Linked DNA regions of Homo sapiens: region 1 is linked to region 2. The links come from fine-mapping of genetic effects on gene expression. A gene starts in region 2. The other region holds a variant in brackets. All regions are shown on one strand. Distances are between the middles of the regions.

Region 1 (5,366 bases), 280 kb before region 2:
GCTTGTGTTTTACACACCCTCTGAATCTTTACAACCACCTTGTTCTCCCCATTTCACAGATGAGGAAACCGAGGCTCAGAGAGGACTAGTGACTCACCTAAGGCTCCTAGGAGAGTAGGTGGCCAGGTCCCGATGCAGGCTCCAGCCCAGCAGGCCCACAACCCGAGCCCTTGGGCCACAGGCACCGCCTCAGGCAGTGGCGGATGGGAGCCTCCTGTGCTGTGACCAAGTGGGACAGGGATGCATGACCCTCCTCAGGCCTTGGCTGGACCCAGGGCCCGAGGATGACCCTGTGGGGTCAAGGAGGCAAAGACAAGAGTGGTGGCGGTCACAGAGGCCCCCAGCCATGCCCATGCTGACCAGGCCCCTCACCTCCTCCTCCATGCAGAGCGGGACTCGGACTCTGCCTCAGCTGCAGCTAGCTCTGCCCTTCCTGCCCTGCTTCAGGGACCCCTCAGCACGTCCCAGCAGCCACTCACCCCTCGCCTGAGGATAGAAGAAAGAAGGAAAGACTTTATGGTGCACCCCGGGGGCCCCATGCCCTGTCCAGGTTGACCTCTGTTAATATCCCCAAAAGCCCGTAAGGGAAGTTACTCCCCGACCATAGAGATGAGGAGACAGAGTGCTTCCCCATCAGAGGTGACACGGCCAGGCAGAACTGGGATTCCAGCCAGATCTGTGTGACCCACAGCCCAGTGGTCACCAGGAAACCCTATTGTCCTCAGGGGGTCAAGGGCCAAACAGCAGAAGATGAGGGAGACGAGGAGGGTGGTGGGGGCTGTGGGTGGCCCGGATGGTCAGCGGGAGCTGCTGGCTCCAGGCAGACCTGCAGAAGATCCCCCACCACCTTCCTGCCACCTCTCCATAGTCAGCCCCACTCAGGGCTTGAGTGTCCAGGAGGAGTCCTGCCTGCTGGCCTGGCCCTGAGGCCCTGTGTGGTGGTCCTGAGGGGCGGTAGCCCTCGTGTCCCCTACCTGGCACACACCACCTCTGACAGCTGCCTGCAGACTCACATCTCAGCCCAGAAGGCAGGCTGGGCAGAGGTGACTGTCCTCATCTGATTCTGAGTCCAGGGAGGGACAGTGGCACAGTGAGGATCACCCCCAGCAGGTGCAGAGCTGGAGTGGGTCCCCCACGGTGTGACCTTGAGGGGGGGCCTCAGCCTGGCCCCCAAAAGACCTTCAGGAGGAGCACATTCCTGTCTGAAATGGTGCAGGATGTCCTTTTTCTGTTCCTATCTGGCTGCAGCGTGGGCAGGGGCAGCAGGAAATGCATGACCACAAGTGTGGGAGGAATGTTAGTGGCGGGAACGGCCGCAGCCCTAAGGCTCAGCCCTGGGGCTCGGCCCATTTTCCTGTGTGGGGTCCTCAGGCCCAGTGCGGCTGCTACTGCCCGCCTCCCCCGGAGGACTCCGGCCAGGCCTCAAAGGCTTATGGTCAAGTGTGTGGCTGCTTCTGGAGTAGGCAGGATGGACAGGGCAAGCAGACGCTAGGGGAGGGATGGGAGCAGCCACCTGGTACAGTGCCCAAGACACAGTTTACAGAACTTCAATATGAGTGGTGTCCCCTCACTGGGCAATGCCCACCCTGTCGGCCTTGAGAGGTGGTGGGGGAGGAGCAGGAATGAGAAGGTGGCGATATGGAGAGAGGGGGCCGAGTGGCAGGGGCCGAGCGCTGGGAGGGTATGGGGGCATTGGAGGGAGACAGTGGCCAGAGTGGCTGACCCTGCCCTGAAATTCCTTCAGTAGGGCCGGGTCACCCATTCCAGCCTGGAGCCGGCTGTGCTGCAGGGACCTGGGCTGGGGCTGGGGCAGCAGGTGACAGGCTGGTGACAGGCCCAGCACGGACAGGGCAGACGTGGAGAACTCCAAGGATGATGGGGAGGGTGCCTGCAAAGGGGGGACTTCCTGCAGGCAGAGAGTCTGGGCCCGCAATGATGACTGTGTGGCCGCCGGGGAGATGCGTGGGGCCATCTGGAGGAGTCTGGGTTGCTCCATGTGATCACAGACACGCCCACCTGTGCACGAGCATGCACCTCCCCCAGGCCATGACCACAGGTAGGGGGCATGGAGGATAACGGGAGGCCTTGGTTCCCTCCTTTCCCCACCGAGGGAGGTCCCCACGCAGCCCTGAGGGTGAGCAGAGCCCTGGCCACAGCCCAGGGCCCAGGACCTGGAAGGAGGCAGAGAGACAGACAGACGAGCCCATGGATCCCAAATGGGGCTGGGGATGGGAAGTGGCCTGCCCCGGCCACACCTGCCCAGGCCCCCAGCCTGGCTCTGTCCTGAGATCCTCTTGGCTGAGTGGGGCGGCTCCTTCAAAGAAGGGCCTCCTCCCTCCTCTGCCTCCTCCTTCCCTTCCTGGTCCATTCGCCACCCCACCCTGCCCGAAGTTGGCTCCCTGCTCACTGAGGAGTGGGTGCCCCGTCCCCAGGGCTCCCTGGCTTGGGGGTACCCAGGCCTCTGCCTCCCTGCTGCTGCTGCTCTGGGGAACCACCAGGCCCCCAGCCAAGGCAGCCCCCCTCAGCTTCCCTCTCTCCTTCCTCACGCCTGCCCTGCTGGAAACACAAGGTGCTCAGCGAGGCCGCCTTCAACACTCAACACGGCCCCTTCCCCACCGGACTCCTAACCTGTGTTCTCAGCTCCCCTCTGCAGCTACGCTCTTGAAAGAGACTTCACCTTTTCCTCCCCCTTGAGCCCACTCCAACCTGGCTTGACCCCACCTTAGTCAGCTTGGGCTGCCGTAAGAAAACCGCCACAGACAGGTGGCTTCAACAATGAACTTAATTTCTCACAGTCCTGGAGGTTCAAAGAACAAAGCAAAGGTTCCAGCCCATCTGGGTTCCTGTGAGGCTCCCTCCTGGCTTGC[G/A]GGTGGCCGCCTTCTCCGTGTGTCCTGGCGTGGCTGAGCGTGAGCTCACTTGCACTTTAGAGTTTCTTCTGGTGAGGACGCCAATCCTACTGGGCCAGGGCCCCTCCTGATGACCTCACTTCACCTGAATTACTTCCTTAAGGGGCCTATCTCCAAATATAGTCACACAGGGGCGGGGGCTCCACCCTATGAATCTGGGGGAGCAAAACTGCATCCCCAGCATGGCTCTGGTCAAGGTCACTGCCAACCTGCACACCACCAGGCCCACGGTCAGCTCTCAGGCCACCCTGACGGGGTCTCCAGGCATTGAGAGAGCCCACCCACCTCCTCCAGGAAGCTCACCCTGCCTGCTCTCCGCCTCCCTTGCAGCTGCTCCTGCGCCTTCTTTCCTGATCTCTTCATTTCCCAGCCTGTAAACCCCGCCAGCCCCGGAGCTCAGCCCTGACCTCTTCCTCTTTGTCTATGCTTGTCCCGAAGTGGCCCCGTCAGGCCCATGGCTCCCAGCCCCGCATCCCTGACACCTCCCACACTCTCGCCTCATCTTGGGCTCTCGCCTGGGCTCCTGCCCAGCCAGCTGCCTCCCCCTCAGAGGCTCCACAGGCATTTTGTATTCAACCTGCCTGAAAGCAGACTCCTGCCTTCTCCTCTCCTCCCCAACCTATTCTTCCTGTTTCCTGGCCATCATCGCCATCCTTCCAGTAGCTCAGGACAAGACCCTCACCCTCATCCCTGGCGTCTCCCCTCCCTCACACCCAGCTCCATGTGTGAGCAACCCTCTTGGCTCTGTCTTCAGAATCTTCACAGTCCAGTGCCTCTCGCCACTTCCTCCACGCCCCTTGGTCTAAGCACCATGGTCGCTGTGTGACAGCAGGAGCCTGACAGCCTCCCAGCTCCCACGCTGCGGCCTGCAGAATAACGTGCTCCCCCTGCCCCTCAAAGACGTCCACATCCCGAGCCCTGGAACCTGTGACTATGTTGCCTTCCATGACAGATGGAGCGATGCAGATGTGATTGAACGAAGGCTCTCGAGGTGGGGCAATGGCCCTGGACTATCCAGGGGGCCCAGAGCAACCAGCAGAGTCCTTAGAGGGAGGCAGGAGGTCAAAGGCAGAAAGGTGACGCAGTGACGGAGCAGAGGAAGGAAAGGTGACGTGAGGTGGCCACGAGCCAAGGCCGCAGGAAGCCTCTAGCCGCTGGAGAAGACGGGGACACCCGTCCTCCTCCAGAGCCTGGGGAAGGAGCACAGCCCCACTGAAAGCTTGATTTGACTTCTGACCTCCAAAACAAAGAGAATAAATTTGTGTTAAGACGCTAAGTTTGCGGTCATTTAAAATTTTTAATTTATTTTATTTGTAGAGATAGGGTCTTGCTCTCTCATGCAGGCTGGACTGCGGTGGCGTGATCACTCACTGCAGCCTCAACCACCTGGGCTCAAGCAATCAGCCCATCTCAGCCTCCCAAGCAGCTGGGACTACAGGTGCACGCCACCAAACCTGGCTATTTTTTTTTTTTTGTAGAGATGGGGGGGGGGTCTCACCATGTTGCCCAGGCTGGTCTTGAACTCCTGGCCTCAGCTGATTCTCCTGCCTCAGCCTCCCTAAGTGCTGGGATTACAGGCAGGAGCCACCATGCCCAGCCAGTTTATGGTAATTTGCTGCAACCACAGGCAATTAATATACACTGTTAGCATGGTCCACGAGGCCGCACCTGTGTGGCCCCTGTTAAACTTCTGACCTCTTCTCATCCTTCACCACCTGACCATCCCCCTCCCCTCTGGGCCTTTGCACCTGCTGTTCCTGCTTCCTGAGATGTCCTCCTCCCAGGTTACCTGTCTTTCTTCAGCCAGATGTCACCTTCTTAGCGAGGCTTCCCTAGTCACCTTCTAAACAGCAGCCCTGCCACTCCCTACACCCCTTCCCTGGCTTCATCTTTCTCCATGCGTCACCCCACCTGCCATACTCCTCATCTGTCTGTTTCCTTCTACCAGAAGGTAGGTCCTAAGTGGATGCAGCATCTGTGTCACACATTGCTGTGCCCTCAGTGCCTGGAATAAGCATCTGGCATGTTGTGAGCATTCCATAGATATTTGTTGGATGAATGAATGAGTGAATGAATGAATGAAATTTCACAGATGGGGAGACTAAGACCAGGGAACAGGAACGCCTTGCCTAAGTTAGGGTCAGCACTAGTCCTGGAATCAAACGCGGCATCTCCTGCATCTCACTGTCCAAAAAATGCCTCCACTGGGCAGACCTGGGCACTTTTGAAATGTTTATCCCTCAGGCCTGTCTCAATCTTAGTTCTGCCAGGTAATTCCACAATGACCCCAGGCAGGTGTCCTGCCGTCTTAGTGTCTAGCGTCTGCGTCCTCATCTATTAATGGATGGACGGATGGATGGATGGATGGATGGATGGATGGATGGATGGATGGACGGACGGACGGACGGGTGGACGGATGAATGGATGGATGGATGGATGGACGGATGGATGAATGTCCTT
Region 2 (5,319 bases):
ACAGAGCAGGTACTCAATCTTTGTGGAAGGAAGGAAGGAATGAGTGGCTGGCCCTGAGAGACATTAGCTACTTTAACCCTCATAACAACCCCTGCAAGGTAAGTCATTTAAATCCCGTTCTAAAATGAGAAAACTGAGGCTCAGAGTGGTTAAGTGATTTGGCCAATGTCACAAAGTCAAGAAGTGGCCAAGGTCACAAGAATCAGTCCCCCATCTGGCTGGCTCCAAACACTGTATTCTTTTTTTTTTTTTTTCGCCTGTGGTTGTTTTCATGGTAACTGTCTTAGTGTGACAAACGTGACATTCACTTGCTTTCCTTATTCTAAGCAGAAGATGCTTTAACTTCAGGATTTTGCAAAATCTGCCCAGAACTTGTGCTCATGCACCCGAGAATCTATGGGGGAGCCGGTGCCCCCAAAAGCCAGGAAGAAGTCCCTCTACCAGCCCGAGAGTGGGAAGGCCTCACCAGTCAAACGGAGGGAAGGCCCCTCTTGCAAACACCAAAGGAGAGCCACAATCATTCTAGTTTAGTTTCATCTTTTTCTTGGCTTCATCGTTTTATTTTCCTGAGCACTCACTCTGTCTGATCTTTTCAAGTCCGGGTAACTTTTTGCCATCAATGGCTACCACTCACCATGTGAGTCTCTAGGACAAAAATCTATGTCCCATGAGTTTCCCCAAACTGAACTTGCACACAGACCCATGGACCACAGTGCCCCCGCAAACCCCGATCCCCAAGCCCCACTCATGACTGCATCTTAGGACATTGGGAGCAGCCCCTGGGAAGAGAGCTAAGCCTTTCGGGGGCCATGAAGGTGAATAGGAAGGGCCCAGGCCACCAAAAACCCATCTACCCTCTCATTCCAGGGACCATCATAGCTTGAGTCCCCCTTCATCTGCCTGTCATTCTCAATCACATTAACTCATCTGTTTTGTTTCAATCACTTCTCACTATCTGAAGCTGTGCTGTTTATTTATTTCCATATTTGCTTATCACCTGCCTCCTGAGAGCAGGGTGAGGGCATAAGGGCAGGGGCTTGGTCAGTGCTGTTCACCACTGTTCTGTGACTGGCACAGGTGGGCACGCAAATATTGGGTGAATGAATAAGCAAAGACAGCAGGAAACAAGTGGATTCAGAAGAAAAAAGACCAGGAGGCTCACAAATAAACCCATTTAATCCTAAAATCAACCTGCACAGAAGGTGTCATTATGCCTACACCGCTGGGAAGCCACAAAGTAGACCCAGGACTGTGCAACTCCGAGAGGAAAAGAGAAAATGCTGCAGGTAAGCGGAGAAGCAGGTGAGCCCGACACGGAGGGCAAAGGCAAGCTGCCTCTGGGGCCCAGGGCACTGAACACCATCTCCTCAAAGGCTGACATAACTGAGAAGGGTCCACATTTTCCACCAAGTGGAGCCCGTGTAGGGTCGGTGCTATCTCCATGCCCCTGACACACCATGGCACCTGCGTTCACCCAGAAGGTACCTGCCCACAGCATGCATCCATCATTGAGAGTGCGCAAAACCAAGTTCTAATTTCCAGGCACTAATACCATAGGACACAAACATAAACCACCCTCCAGGAGGACACCTGACATCCCTCTCCTTTCTGGGTAGTCTGAAGTGAGAAGGTTGAAAATAGTGCAGATGTCCTTTCTTAGAGCAGCCCCGCCATCCATTCATTCACTCTTTCATTCATTTGTTCAGCCAACATGTGCTCACTGGGCCTGGGGAAGCCCAGGATGAAATGAGACAAACCCTCTGCCCTCTGGCCACGGTGTGCTGGTGCCTGCGCTTTAGGCGGGTACTAAAAGACAAGCAAATATTAAAGATACTCGCTTCCAAAACAAATAAGGCCACGTGGAGCTGTGCACTGGAATGGGATTCTGGATGCAATTTTATTTGATTGGGTACAAGAACCAATCCAGTTAAAGGGGTCATGAACCAACTCCAGGCACCAGGCTCCTACTCAGAGGCTGCCTCAGACCCCCTTCTGGCCCAGGCACCAACCCCTCACCCACCCAACTCCATCTCCCGACATTCTTCAACCACATTCCCATCTCGCTCCACAATATTCTCCCTCCAGGTCCCCCTGACTCTATTTCTCCTCTATTCCCAACCCTGACCTCTCTAGGTCGGCAGCCTTGATGCTACTTCTCCGAACGCCAGGACGCACATCCCAGCCTGCTTTCTACCACCACCCCACACACCTCGAGTCTGCGCTTCCACCCAGAACCCCTTAAACACCATATGTTTACAAACCAGATTCCCCAGGGGTCTATGTACAACACCCCATTCTCAAGACCCCATAAACACATCCTGATTCCCTGAGCACACCATACACACACTGTGGACTTCACCCATGTCCTGAGGGACCCCCTCACCCCATCACCTCCAACTTCTTGGAAGCCCCAGGCCGGCCCCTGACCTCCTGTGGTCCCAGTGGAGCAGCGGACTCGCTGAGACCCCCGGACACCCCAGACTCCGCAGAAGCCCGCCCTGCACGCTTGAACCCCAGGCGCCGGGACAGCCCCTGGCGCCCCCCCGGGCCCCCACACCGCGTGACTCCGGGGCACCCGGGCTCCCCCAGGCCCCGGTCCCGCGCACATCCCCTGGGCCGCAGCTCCCTCGCGGCCCGGCCGCGCCCCTGCCCGCGCCCCGCGCCCGGCCGCGCCTCGGGGGCCCGTTCCCGCGGAGGCCGCGGCGCCCCCCGCAGCCCAGGCCGGCGCGCCCGGAGCGTACCGTTGGCGATGAGCTTGGCCGACAGCTGCTTGACGAGCTCAGGGATCCGCTCCCACTGGCACTCGGAGCGGCAGCGCTCGATCTCCGTCTCCAGCCGCGAGCCTGCCTTCTTGGTCGCCATCGCGGCCTGGCCGGGCCCGGCCGCCCGCCCCGCAGGCCCCACCGCCGCCGCCGCGGCGCCCCCTCGCCGCCTCCCGCCGCCGCCGCGGGCTCGGGCTCCGGCTCCCGGCTCCGCGGCGTAACGGGAGCGCCGGCTGGGGAAGGGGCGGGGAGGCGGGCGGCGGCGGCGGGCGCGGCGGGGCCCCGGGCGCCGCGAGGAGCGGCCCCTGCCGGCCAGGGCCGGAGCCGCAGCACTGACCGGGGCCGGAGCCAGGGCTGGGGCAGGGGCGGGGGCTAGGGCGGGAGACAGGGGCCCGAGGGAGGAAAGGCGGGGTGGGCATGGAGGACAGGGAGAGGGACTGGGGGTGTCTGGGGCGGGGTGAAGACCGAGGGGAAGTGGGGATGGGGGTGGGGGAGCGGGGTAGGAGAGAGATCTGACCAAGGGCGGGTGAGGGGTCTGGTGGGGTAGGGGTCTGGGCAGGATGAAGGGGAGGGAGAGGATCGGGAGGGAGCTAGCGACAGCCTGGGAGCGGGTTGGATCCCCAGGAGTAGGGCCAAGAAAGGGCAGTGACCCTGGGGAAGGTCACCGCCCGGTGGGACCAGTGAGCCAGGTGTGAGGGGTGGGGGGAGGCCTGCCCGAGTTTGTCCTGCCATCTCAGGTGGCCAGCGGTTCCCTGGGGCCCGGTTGGCCTGTGCCCCTTAGCAGATGCCCCTCTGCCCCGCAGCCTTAGCCCCTACCCAGCCAGAGGTGGACGGAGACTCCTCCATCCCAGGCAAGGCACAGCACCTGCCAGGGGTGCCCTAGATGGCTGAGCGGAGCCAGGCAGGGGCTGCCACTCTCACACGCCAGCTCTCGGACCCCCTGAGGGGAAGGCACAGTCACTGGTGGGGCCTCCTGTCTTGGCCACCTAGACTGAGACCTAGGGAGGTGTCCCTCTGTGTTCTCTCAGTGAATCAACTGTCTAGTGATCACCTACTATGTGCTGGGCGCTGCTTTAGGTGCCAGAGATAGAATTGTGAGCTAAAAAAACAAAATTCCTGGCTTGAGAGAGCTTACATTCCAGTTTGGGGGAAAAATAAGCAAAATAAAATAGTAAACTAGACTGTAAAAATGGCTATTTGAAGAAACAGGGAAGGGTTCAGTGAGGAACATAAAGAGTTGGGACAGGCGGGTGGCTCATGCCTGTAATCCCAGCTACTCAGGAGGCTGAGGCAGGATGATTGCTTGAGCCCAGAAGGTGGAGGCTGCAGTGAGCAGTGAACGCACTTCAGCCTGAGCAAGTGTTGCCATTTAAAATGGAGCAGTCAGGGATGGCCTCACGGAGGTGGCATTAGACTTGAAGAAACTAAGGGGGAGCCATGAGGATATCTCTGGGGGAGGAGTATCCCAGGCAGAGAACACCACAAGTGCGAAGGCTCTGGGGTTAGAGCACACTGGGTGGGATGGAGAAATGGCAGAGGCCAGAGGGGCTGGGTGGAGCGAAGGAGAGGGGCCGAGGCAGGAGATGAACTCTGAGAGGTTGGGGGGAGTTCTGTGTAGTGCCTGGTGGGCCATTATAAGACCTTGGCTTTTGGCTGGGCACGGTGGCTCACGCCTGTAATCCCAGCACTTTGGGAGGCCGAGGTGGGCGGATCACGAGGTCAGAAGATCGAGACCGTCCTAGCTAACATGGTGAAACCCGTCTCTACTAAAAATATTTTTAAAAATTAGCCGGGCGTGGTGGCAGGCGCCTGTAGTCCCAGCTGCTGGGGAGGCTGAGGCAGGAGAATGGTGTGAACCCGGGAGGCGGAGTTTGCAGTGAGCTGAGATGGCAGCACTGCACTCCAGCCTGGGCAACAGAGAGAGACTCCGTCTCAAAAAAAAAAAAAAAAACTTTGACTTTTACTCTGGTGACATGGAGCAGCCCTGCAGGGCTTTTCACGGAAGAGTGGCATGATCAGACCTACACTTTGGACTATCACTGTGACTGCAGTGTTGAGAATACTGCCAGGGAAATAGCTGTGGTGGTGGCAGTGTTGGATTCTGGGTCCTGCATTTGAGAGTGAAGCGGTCAGTCTGGAAGGTTCCGTAGCCCGCCCGCAGTCACAAGGAGGCACTGAGGGGTCGTCGTCATTCCTTCTGGGTGCCCTTACTCCAACTTTCCAAGAGCAGTCACACGCAGGTTCTTATCCCCACCACAACTCCCCCACCACCGGAGTTGATGAAGAACACACACTGTGGACCTCAGTTTACCAATGAGGAGGCTGAATCACAGACATTTAAGAGAGGTGAGGAGGAAAGATAAGGAGATGTGTTCTGATGTGACCAGTATCACTTTCAGGTGCCTCAGGGACTGCCAAGGTGATGGAAGTTGAGCTGACAGGCCCTGGACACTGTGAACAGCCCAGGGAAAGGGGAACTAGAACGTTAGAGTTTCAACAGGGGACCCTTTAGTGCCCTGGCCCTTAGCTCCCACCAAGAGGGAGCAGGAAGGGAAGG

Alleles and levels. Positions count from the first base shown, and alleles are read on the strand shown. Sizes are in standard deviations (SD) of each study's normalised expression.
As copies of G replace A in region 1, the expression in testis of the gene that starts at base 2,997 in region 2 goes up (moderate effect, 0.45 SD a copy in GTEx).

What was found.
Region 1: its variant is fine-mapped to the expression of TTC7B in testis (GTEx, PIP 0.92).

What each region holds. Positions count from the first base shown.
Region 1 is chr14:90,532,986-90,538,351 of GRCh38, forward strand. TTC7B (tetratricopeptide repeat domain 7B) reads right to left here. Exons shown (of 20, transcript NM_001010854.2): 20 at 1-5,366. Among named protein-coding and RNA genes, the nearest start is that of LINC00642, 80 kb to the left of the region's middle. RefSeq lists enhancers at 186-686, 721-1,551. The variant G/A (reference allele first, on the strand shown) is at 2,868.
Region 2 is chr14:90,813,434-90,818,752 of GRCh38, forward strand. It overlaps TTC7B (tetratricopeptide repeat domain 7B), which reads right to left and starts at 2,997. Exons shown (of 20, transcript NM_001010854.2): 1 at 2,742-2,997. The coding sequence starts at 2,862. RefSeq lists a silencer at 2,991-3,170.